Linked DNA regions of Homo sapiens. The protein of the gene in region 2 purifies or fractionates together with the protein of the main gene of each other region. This does not show direct contact. Each region holds a gene or a part of one and is shown on either strand. Other genes may lie near its edges. The genes, in order: HSPG2, GPC5 and GPR179.

Region 1 (3,656 bases), on a different chromosome or scaffold from region 2:
GGGGGCCTCCCACCCTGGGTCCCCAGCCCTGCCCTCCCTGAGAGCTACTCACCAGGCACTGAGCCCGCAGGCTCAATGGTGACCAGGACAGAGGCCTCTAGAGGCACGGAGCTGCCCAACACTCGGCACACGTACTCGCCCGAGTCGGCGGGGGACGCTTGGTAGAGTCTCAGCAGGGAGCCGTGGGTCTGGCCAGAATGGGGGTGAGTCAGAGGGAGCCCTCAGGAGACCCCTGTTCCTATAACCTGCAACCCTGCCTCACTCTGACCCCCAAGGCCTGGCCATCAGCTCTGGATCAGTTTCCCTGTCCTTCACATGGGGAAGGGGGACTCTTGTCCAGCAGCGGGGTGGTAGACCAGAGGAGCCCCAGTGAGCTGGGTACACACTCACACCACATCCCATCAATTCTAGACACACATTTCGATGTCTCCAAAATCAAGATGCATCTACAATGAATAACCTTACAAATAGAAGCTTTTTCTTAGAGGTACATAAAATCATAGCGGATCTCGCAATCAGTGGTATCCTAAATTCTACAAAATATGGTAACAACAATAGCTAATGGCATTATAGTAAAATATTAACAGCTTAGAGTACTTTCTGTGAGCCTAAGCTCTGAGGATTTTGCATATATTTTAATCTTTAAGATAATTCTGTGAGGTACTTTTTTTTTTTTTTTTGAGACTGAGTCTCGCTCTGTTGCCCAGGCTGGAGTGCAATGGCGTGATCTTGGCTCACTGCAGCCTCCGCCTCCTGGGTTCAAGCGATTCTCCTGCCTCAGCTTCCCGAGTAGCTGGGATTACAGGCGCCTGCCACTATGCCCGGCTAATTTTTATATTTTTAATAGAGATGGGGTTTCACCATACTGGCCAGGCTGGTCTCGAACTCCCGACCTCAGGCGATTCGCCCACCTCGGCCTCCCAAAGTGCTGGGATTACAGGCGTAAGCCACCGTGCCCGGCTGGTACGTACCATTGTTACCATTTTATAGGCCCTGAAACTATAGCACAGAGAGGTTAAGTAACTTGTCCGAGGTCACAAGCTAAGTGGTGGAGCCAGAATTCACACCCAGGTTAGTCAGTCCTAGATTCTGGTTTCTAACCACTGCACTATACATCTGTGCAATGGGGTCCAGGGCTTCCTGATCTCAGGGGAGCCTCTAGCCCTCCCCCAATAACCTCCGCCACCCAGGGACCCGCTTCCTCTTCTTGGCCTGTCTGTCCTCCAGTCCCATACCTGGTGCCGGACAGGGAGGCTGCCCCCACGCTTGTGCCACGTGACCTGGGCATGGGACTGCCCGGGCACCACGCAGTTCAGATCCAGGGTCTGCCCTTCCGCCACTTGCGAGGAGGAGGGCTCGATGCGGATGGGCTGGGTGCTGCCGGCAGCTGAGGGATAAGATGGTCACCGGTCACTCCTGTTCTCTGAAGCCACTCCAGCCTGTTCTCTGCATCCCAGCCCAGCCTGGTGGCCCCACTCACGGTAGGCTAAGTTGGCCCCCTGGGTCCCAGTTACTGTGACCGTGATGGAGGCCTCCATGCCGTTGCTGGCCCGGCAGACGTACTGTCCCGCATCGGCAGGTGAGGCCTGGAAGATGTACAGGCGGGAGCCACGAACCTGGGCAGCCGTGGGCAGAGGTGTGAGGGGGGCTTCCCGGAGGCCAGCAAATGCCCCACCGCTGTCCCCCCGATCTAGGAAGTGCCAGCCCCTCAGCCTAGGGGCCAGGATCCTGCAACCCACTGTCCATGGCCCCGTCCCACATTCTTGGTGCCCTGTACCTGGTGCCGGGCAGGGAGGCTGCCCCCACGCTTGTACCATGTGACCTGGGCGTGGGCCTGCCCTGCCACCACGCAGCTCAGATCCAGGGTCTGGCCCTCGGCCACTGTGGAGGATGAAGACTCGATCCTGACAGGTGGGATGGGTCCTGCAGCAGTGGGGATGGGAGTGAGAGTTGTAGATGCTCCTGAGATGAGAGGGCAGGGGTTGCCCACCCTGCAGCTAGCTCAGCCCAGGGTTTCAAGGCCAGATCCAGCTTTTCAGGCATCTGGGGGCCTGGACTTGATGCCCTCAGCTCAGCAACCCTGATGGGAGGACCAGGGCATGGGCCACGCCTTGCAGAGGGGAGTGAGGAAGTGAGAGAGATGAGGGCAGAGATGAGTTGGAGAGAGGAAGAGGAGGTGGGAGGGGACGCCTGAGGAGTCATGTGGCCAAAGCAAAGTGTGACGGGAAGGCGGTGGTTACTCTGACAGGTGGAGTCGGCCTGGGCAGGGCCCTGCAGCCAGCTCCGGTGTGGGCCTTCTGCCCTGTCAGCAAGAGGGGTCCCTTGGATCTCACCACCCCGGAGGCCTCTCTGCCTCCTCCAGCTTTCCATGTCACTGGGAGTCACTCACCAGGGATGACAGAGGCTTCGATGGTGACCAGGACTGAGGCCTCTAGGGGGCCGGAGGTGCCCACCACATGGCACACATACTCGCCTGAGTCGGCCGGGGTCACCTGGTGCAGCCGCAGCAGCGAGCCGTGGGTCTGTGTGCAAATGGGGTGGGTTGGGAGGGGGCTGGAACAGTCCCATCCAGCCCCTCCAGCAAGGTGGTCCCGGGGGGCTGCCATACCTGGTGCCGGGCAGGGAGGCTGCCCCCACGCTTGTGCCACGTGACCTGGGCGTGGGCCTGCCCGGGCACCACGCAGTTCAGATCCAGGGTCTGCCCTTCCGCCACGTGTGAGGAGGAGGGCTCGATGCGGATGGGCCGGGTGCTGCCGGGCACTGGACACAGAGCGGCTGCTCAGAGGCCTGAACTCTTGGGCTGTAACCTGTAGCCCTGGGGCAGAAGGCTCTGGGCTGTGACCAGGCCCTAGTGGGGACGGCCGACAGGTGGCCTTTCTGGGACTAGGGCCACACCCTTCTGCCTCCACATGGCCAGCCGAATATGGCTTCTTCCCTCCCCAGCCTCTAACCACAAGCTGGAGGCCCATTGACCCACCCATGACTTCTTGATGATGAGCTCCTCTGGCCCATAGGGAACCAGCAAGCTTTACTACCCAGGCTGCGCCCAAGGATGCGGATGACAGTGAGACACCTCCCTTCTACAGGACGTCTTCCGTGTGCTCACAAGTACTTTCCATAGACACTGTCTCATTTAAACCACACCATGACTGGCCAGGCGCGGTGGCTCATGCCTATAATCCCAGCACTTTGGGAGGCTGAGACGGTCGGATCACGAGGTCAGGAGATCGAGACCATCCTGGCTAACACGGTGAAACCCCGTCTCTACTAAAAAAAATACAAAAAATTAGCCGGCCTGGTGGCGGGTGTGCCTGTAGTCCTAGCTACTCAGAAGGCTGAGGCAGGAGAATGGTGTGAACCCGGAAGGCGGAGCTTGCAGTGAGCCGAGATCACGCGCCACTGCACTCCAGCCTGGGTGACAGAGCGAGACTCTCTCTCAAAAAAATAAAATAAAATAAAATAAAATAAAATAAAATAAAATAAAATAATAAAAAAACCACACCATGACCAAGCAGGTGGGCAGTACTGCTCCATTTCATAGATGAATCTGAGGCCCCAAAAGTTAAAAGCTAGTTCAAGGTTGCTAAGGGGCAGATCTGGGATTTGAACCAGGTCAGCCGACTCCCAGCTTAGTATTCAACCTGGACATTCTGCTG
Region 2 (3,273 bases):
CTTAAAAATGTTGTGATTTAAACTAACCATCCTTAGATCATTTTGTTAATTGAGAACTTAAGCGAGAACAAGGTTTGATCATATATTGTTTCCTGACTAGCAGAAACGGATTTTACCTTATTAATGTTTGCATTTGGCTGTGTCTTGTTTACGTCTTTGTCAGAAGTCATTTCAAATTTTTTTTTGTTTTTTTTTATTTGAGGTCAGCAATTCCCTTTTCTATTCTGTGACTTTGTATTAATTATATTTTCTCTCTGTAGACTGGATGTGATACTTATTAATAAAAACTAACTTCTCTTTTCCTCAAGTATAGCCATATACATATCCTATTAGTGTCTATTGAGGCAACTTATCCCAACTGAGAAATTAGGGACTGTTGGTTTGCAGCTCCATTAATGAGCAAATAGGAAAGAGCTAAAGTGTTGCATATCATCTTTTCTGTACATGTCTGCAGATATTCATAGGAACCTTAGAAATGCAAAGGTAGCCAATTGTACAACATCAGGCTTTAAAAAGTAGTACATAATATTTTGAAAATGGGTGAAAATAGCATTTTTGCCAGAAGAAAATGACAAATATTCTTCAAATTTTTCCACCAAATAGTTAACAGCTTTATTGGAGATATTCCTAGAGCAAGCATGTGCTTCCCAACATAGCTAAATCTATGAGGCAAAGAGAGAGATGGGAGCAGAGGCACAATACCAAAGATGCATTTTGAATATAATGGAATACAAATCAGGTGTTAATAAAATACTCAGCTTTAAGGTTCATCAGTGGCTAAGTTACAGTGGGTCAAAATTATCAAGGTTCTTCAGTGAAATTATATGAAATGCTTCTCAAGAATCTACCCCATAACTTATAGACATTCAGACATTTCCTTCTACAGCTTGCAAAAATGGAAGAGTCTCTTGAATATGCATGCATACTACTTGCCATTGTATGTTTTGATTTATTTCATGATATTCTAATTTCAATACTTTAAGAAATACTGCATACTGTTTTCATTGTCTGGCAAATACACTTTCAAATGAAAACATTTTTAATTTAGAAAGGAAGGGGCTTGGAATTGATAATAAAATTACAGATACACTAAATTCTTCTTATTCAAAGTCACTTCTGTGCCCTTCACATCTTCAGATTTAATATATTAGAAGTTAAGAAGGTTTTCAGTTAGATTGAAAAAAGACATATTTTTAAAGTGTGTCATTTAAACGTTGAGTTTTAGGGACTTTATGAATATTTCAGCTTGGCTTCTGAGAAGTTAGTGTAACATATCTTTTCATAAATATAATTGTTACATTGAAAAAGGATCTCTTATTCCAGGCATATGCAGAGAGAGAAGAAATCGAGACTTCAGTAAGGTATGTCAGGACAGAAGAGTTCAGTTACCAAATCCCGGGAAGTAACATCACCACACTTATCAGAGTGAATGTCATAGATTCAGTCGCCACTGCACATCCTGCTCCTGTTGTGTCTAAAGTACTGCCAGTGTCTGTTTGATGGATTTGCTTTACATCACTGAAGTTCATATCATCTGGCATCCCTGTAGAGGCAAATAAGAAAGCACAGGTGATGCATGACCACTTCACCATAATACGTCTAGAACAACTCTTAAACTCAAAGTGTGGACAGCATTGTTTTTGGGGACCATTCTCTATGTTCACCTAACTCTAACATAATTAATATGACACAGGTATTTCTGTCCTACTTAGATTGGAGAGTTCAAGCTCTTGTGTGAAAATTCTCAAATATTATAAGAGCAAAGTGAAAAGATTTTTAGCTTTTTAAAATTTTTGGAACATTTCTCTGCCACTGGTAAGTAAGTGAAGACATTTAATTAATTAATATATCCTAGGTATGGGATTAGTTCTTGTTTCAGAGATTTATCACCTTCAGTAACTGAAAACTTTTCCCATGAAAATAAAACCAGTTGAGGGGATATAATTGAATAAAATATTTTTTAAAAGTAGAATTTCTACAGATCATATTTTACATTAGAATAAAGTAGGCCTAAGATCTTTTTCAAATTTATTTTCATTTTTACTTGACAAATTTTATAGATATTGATGGGGTACAATGTGATATTTTGACAAGTATACCAGGAGGAATGATAAAGTCAAGCTGGCTAGCATATCCATCACCTCACATCCTTAGCATTTTTCTTGTGGAGGGAACATTTGAAATGTACCTTCTTGGCAATTTGGAAATATACAGTACATTATGAATGATAGTTACCATGCTGCGCAATGGTCTAAAACATTTCTTCCTCCTGTCTAACTAAACTTTGTACCCTCCAACCACCATCTCCCCTCCCTTCCCCACATCCATCCCCTGGCAGCCACCCTTTTACTTTCCCCTTTTATGACTTCAGCTATTTTAGATTCCACATGTAAGTGAGATCAGGAATTAGGACCTTTATGGAAATAGCAAATAGCAAAGAATAATAGCAACAAATGTTAAATTATATCTTCCATACACACATACAGCTGTGAGGATGGAGGTGTAGATATCTATCAACAGATCAAAGAAGTTGTTAATGGGTGGACTGGAGAATGAAGTTAGGGATAAAGTGTTTCATTTAAAAAAAAGCGGGCAAAGTCATACACCAAGATCCAGTCGCATTCTGGTTATTACTTCCGTACGTTATGAAACCTGACAAGTTGAGGAAAAAACTATCCCCTTAATTAACTGGGTTGAAAGAATTGCTTTTTAAAGATGTTTACCTTAGTACGATATACCTAGGGAATTACTGATTCATCACTTATTATCTAGTGCCATCAGTGTTCTGAGACTAAGTGACTGAATTATCTCATAGCATGCCACTATCAGTCACAATTAACAGATTTAAATTCATTGTTACTACAGCCACAAATATTGACATGGTAATTACAGAGAGATTGAAAGAATAAACTTCATATAAGGAAAAGTCAATATTTATGTAATTAGGCCAATATATATATATATAATTCAGAAGATAAGCTGTGCTGCATTCAGACATGAGAGCACTAAAACGAAGCAAAGCTCTGCTGATCTGACATATTGATTTTACAGTCTGAGCTCTTACATTATTATTCATTGTTTGGGTGCTTGTTTTGCCCTTCTGTGTCATTAGGCAAGATGAATAAACTAGTGATTCCCTTTTTTATTTTTTTTAAATAGGGACTAGAGTGGAGTGTGAATATTTTAGTCATGGCTTTATACCTCTTGTTAAGCTTAACAAGAAGCTATGAGGACTCCAGGCAATTAAAAATATTTTTTTTTTCTAAGATAACT
Region 3 (3,042 bases), on a different chromosome or scaffold from region 2:
CCTATTTGCCTGAGCCCTGGATTAAGGCAAAATGAGAAGGGACGTGCTTTTGAGCAGGACCCACTGCCAGGGAGTATGGAGGAAGGGGAAATAATCCTTGCAGGGTAAGGAAGCAAAGAAATGAAAAAAAAAAAAAAAGCACACTTAGTGGGTAAATGATACATTGATTCCTTTGAATATGTAAAAATAGTGCTTCAAATAAGCTGTTTCATCCCACTCCCCTGGATATCTCAGGGTTCTCTAGATAATCCTAAATAGGAGCTAAGCAGTAGCTGCCACCAGAGAGCCAGAGGATGAGTGCAATTTCCATTTCCCCTTGGGATTAAATCCAGCTGAGCAAATGGCCTCCAGATGTGAGGGGCTGGCTAGAAGGACCAGGCAGAGACCATCTGCAGTGTCAGCACTGACCTGGGCACTAGCAGAGCATTAGCCAGATAACCCAAAGTCCCAAGACTGCAGTGCACCTTGAGCTTTGGAGCAGGCATTGTTCTTTCCTTATCTATCTTCTGTTACTGTTTAAAAATGTTAAAAAAAGATAATCATGAATAAGCTAGAGCCAACTGCAATGTCAAGAAAAAGCATTCTTTATTTCCGCCCCGCCCCCCCCACCCCATGGTTTATTTCACAAGAGTGTGTTTGGCGGCAACTTTGCTGTTTCCAGCTAGACCAGACCCAATGGGATTGTTTTGGGGTGCACAGCAAAATCCACTTTAGCTCAGAAGCCGTAAGGCTAACTAGCCAGAGCCCAGAACAACAACACACTTCAATTACTGCTCCAAAAGCCCAGAATAAGGGCCCTAGGTAAGAGAATGAGGACATCTGGTCCCCAAAGGAGAGTAGGTTACTCCATTCCTCTGTTCCCTTTTGGAAATGGAGTACTTTTTTACTTTCTCTGTGAAGTCCCATAACCGCCCAGCATATTTACATGCAGACTAGATGTTAATGGCTCTTTTTCCCTTTGGGTATTTGGTCTCCCTGTTTGTCTTTTTCTCCCCATGAATGACATCAATGTCTGTACTGTTGTACTGTTAGAGGGCGTGACTTACTGCCATCTTTAGTGCCCCTGTGCAGCTCTGCCTTCTCTAGCTGCCCCTTCCCCCCTCTCCCACCTCCCTTTGCCAATCTTGGGACTTCTTTGTATGTTTTTCTCCTTCTTCCTTTCCCTCTGGTATTATCATCTAATCCCAGCAATTTGTAATCTAGTACTGCTTAAGCAAGTGTAGCCTGAACTGACGAGAGAAGGGAGCCAAGAAAGAGAGAGCTCCCTAAGAAAGAAGGCTTTGTCTTCACACAGTGCCCTTTTCCCAGCTCTCAGGCTTCTAACTTGCCCTGTAGCACTCCTCTTTTAGAGGGCAGAAGAAGTAGAGTGCTGGCTGTGTACAGGACTGCCTTTCTTGAGCTCCTCTGGAAGGAGATTGATGTGGCCTCTTGTTACTGAGCAAGTGATTCTTGGGCGGGGAGGGGTGGGGGAGGGTGGATGGGTCTTGCATCAGAACCAGAGATTCCCCTTGACTCCAGTTGCCTTGACAAAAGAGAGAGGTCCTGTTGATGGCAGCGCTGAAAAGCTAGGGGGAAGGAAATGAGCCAGTGAGACGAGCTCTGGAGACTGGTGAGAGCTAGGGCAGGAAGAGGGGGAGACCCCCTAAAAAACTAGCAAGAGGCACACAAGGATGTCTGGAAGGAAGAGCTCCCTTGACTGTGGGGAGGACCTGGGGCAATTGCTTTTCTTCTGTGTTCTCTCTCTCTGATGTTGCTTTGGATGCCAGATGCTGATAAGGGTGTCAGCGTGCCTGATTGTTTCTGCTTCAGCAGTCAAGCAGGGCAGGTATGAGAAGCAATAAAGCAGAAACAGGAGATTCAAAGTCAAAATGACAAGGTCCTTAAAGCATTTTCAGGCCCCTATTTTGAGTCATTTTAGCTTTTCCCCCAATTTATCTTCCGCTTCAATTAAATGGCTCTTCAGCTTTCTATGGTGGCCTTTATAGCCTTCTGTGGTCCACCATCCCTACGTTGCCAACACTTTGTATGGTTTAGTTTCTTCTCAAAAAATGCTCCATCGTAGACTTCAGAGAATTGGGTCCCCCTGTGAGAGAAGGTAGGCTGGGCACAACTGACTTTTTTCATCCCTAACAGTGGCTTTGTGGGTGAGTGTCCAGACTCGGGTGGTTTGTGTTGTGAGTACTGTAGGTGGATGGGAGGCGTCCTTAGAAGTAGAGTGTCCAGTCTTTGTTTCCTCAAACAGGAAGAAAAGTTAGAAGTAAAGAGAGGGTGGGCCTTCCCATTGGGGTCTAAGCTGTACCCTTTTCATGCAGTTTGTCTTTGGGATGGGTTGACTTCTGGTCTTCTCAAGGAGGGGAAGTGGCCAAGCTGTCTTTGATTCAGCTCTTTGGGAACACCTGGACTTGGAAAGGGCCTTGGCTCCTGAAAGCTAGCTCTGTGTTTGACCTCACCTAATAAGGCTGTTACTCCCAATCCCAAGGATAGACAGTGGGAGGGGTGAATTCTTCATACTGAGCTTCAAAAGCCACTTGGCCTGAGTCTTCAGTTAAGGACGAAGACTGAGACTCAGCTTCCTGGAGACTTGGCTCTGGGGCTAAGCTGGTCCTTGGCTCAAGCCCTGAAGGTCCTTGTAGTTCTCTGACACCTTCTAGAGTGAAAGTACTGGCTGGCCTGCTTACCTTGGGGCAGGGGATTTTGCTTTCTGGAAAGAAGTGATCCAGAGGCCCATGGACTAAAAGGCATAGTGGTTTTTCAGGAGCTGTGGGGAAAAATTCTCTCCGAGTTGCTGTTAAAGCCAGGAGGCCAGATTCCTCAGATGGGACTCCAGTTTCCTCCCCAGGACAGATGTCTGCCATGGTACCCTTTATTTTATTTCCTTCTGGATCTGTGATTTCCCATTGGCACAGCTCTGCCATCCTGCTTCCCATGCTGCCTGCTTCCTTGGGGCTGACTTTGAGTTCTGGGTCCAGGGCACCTGACTGGGGCAAGAGCCCTCCTGAGCCTGTGCCTTCCCCAGGGCAGACTGCCTCCTGCTCTCTGGGC

The links.
Region 1: the proteins of GPC5 (region 2) and HSPG2 purify together in Homo sapiens (affinity purification with mass spectrometry; one large-scale study listed by BioGRID and IntAct). This does not show direct contact.
Region 3: the proteins of GPC5 (region 2) and GPR179 purify together in Homo sapiens (co-immunoprecipitation; one study listed by IntAct). This does not show direct contact.

What each region holds. Positions count from the first base shown.
Region 1 is NC_000001.11:21,850,311-21,853,966, forward strand, and holds part of HSPG2 (basement membrane-specific heparan sulfate proteoglycan core protein isoform b precursor), read right to left. Parts: intron 2,761-3,656; coding exon 2,609-2,760; intron 2,523-2,608; coding exon 2,390-2,522; intron 1,924-2,389; coding exon 1,778-1,923; intron 1,617-1,777; coding exon 1,481-1,616; intron 1,388-1,480; coding exon 1,236-1,387; intron 189-1,235; coding exon 53-188; intron 1-52. UniProt on the Homo sapiens protein: Integral component of basement membranes. Component of the glomerular basement membrane (GBM), responsible for the fixed negative electrostatic membrane charge, and which provides a barrier which is both size- and charge-selective.
Region 2 is NC_000013.11:92,864,552-92,867,824, reverse strand, and holds the end of GPC5 (glypican-5 precursor), read right to left. Parts: intron 1,544-3,273; coding exon 1,386-1,543; 3' UTR 588-1,385; downstream 1-587. UniProt on the Homo sapiens protein: Cell surface proteoglycan that bears heparan sulfate.
Region 3 is NC_000017.11:38,324,003-38,327,044, forward strand, and holds the end of GPR179 (probable G-protein coupled receptor 179 precursor), read right to left. Parts: coding exon 2,463-3,042; 3' UTR 569-2,462; downstream 1-568. UniProt on the Homo sapiens protein: Orphan receptor involved in vision. Required for signal transduction through retinal depolarizing bipolar cells.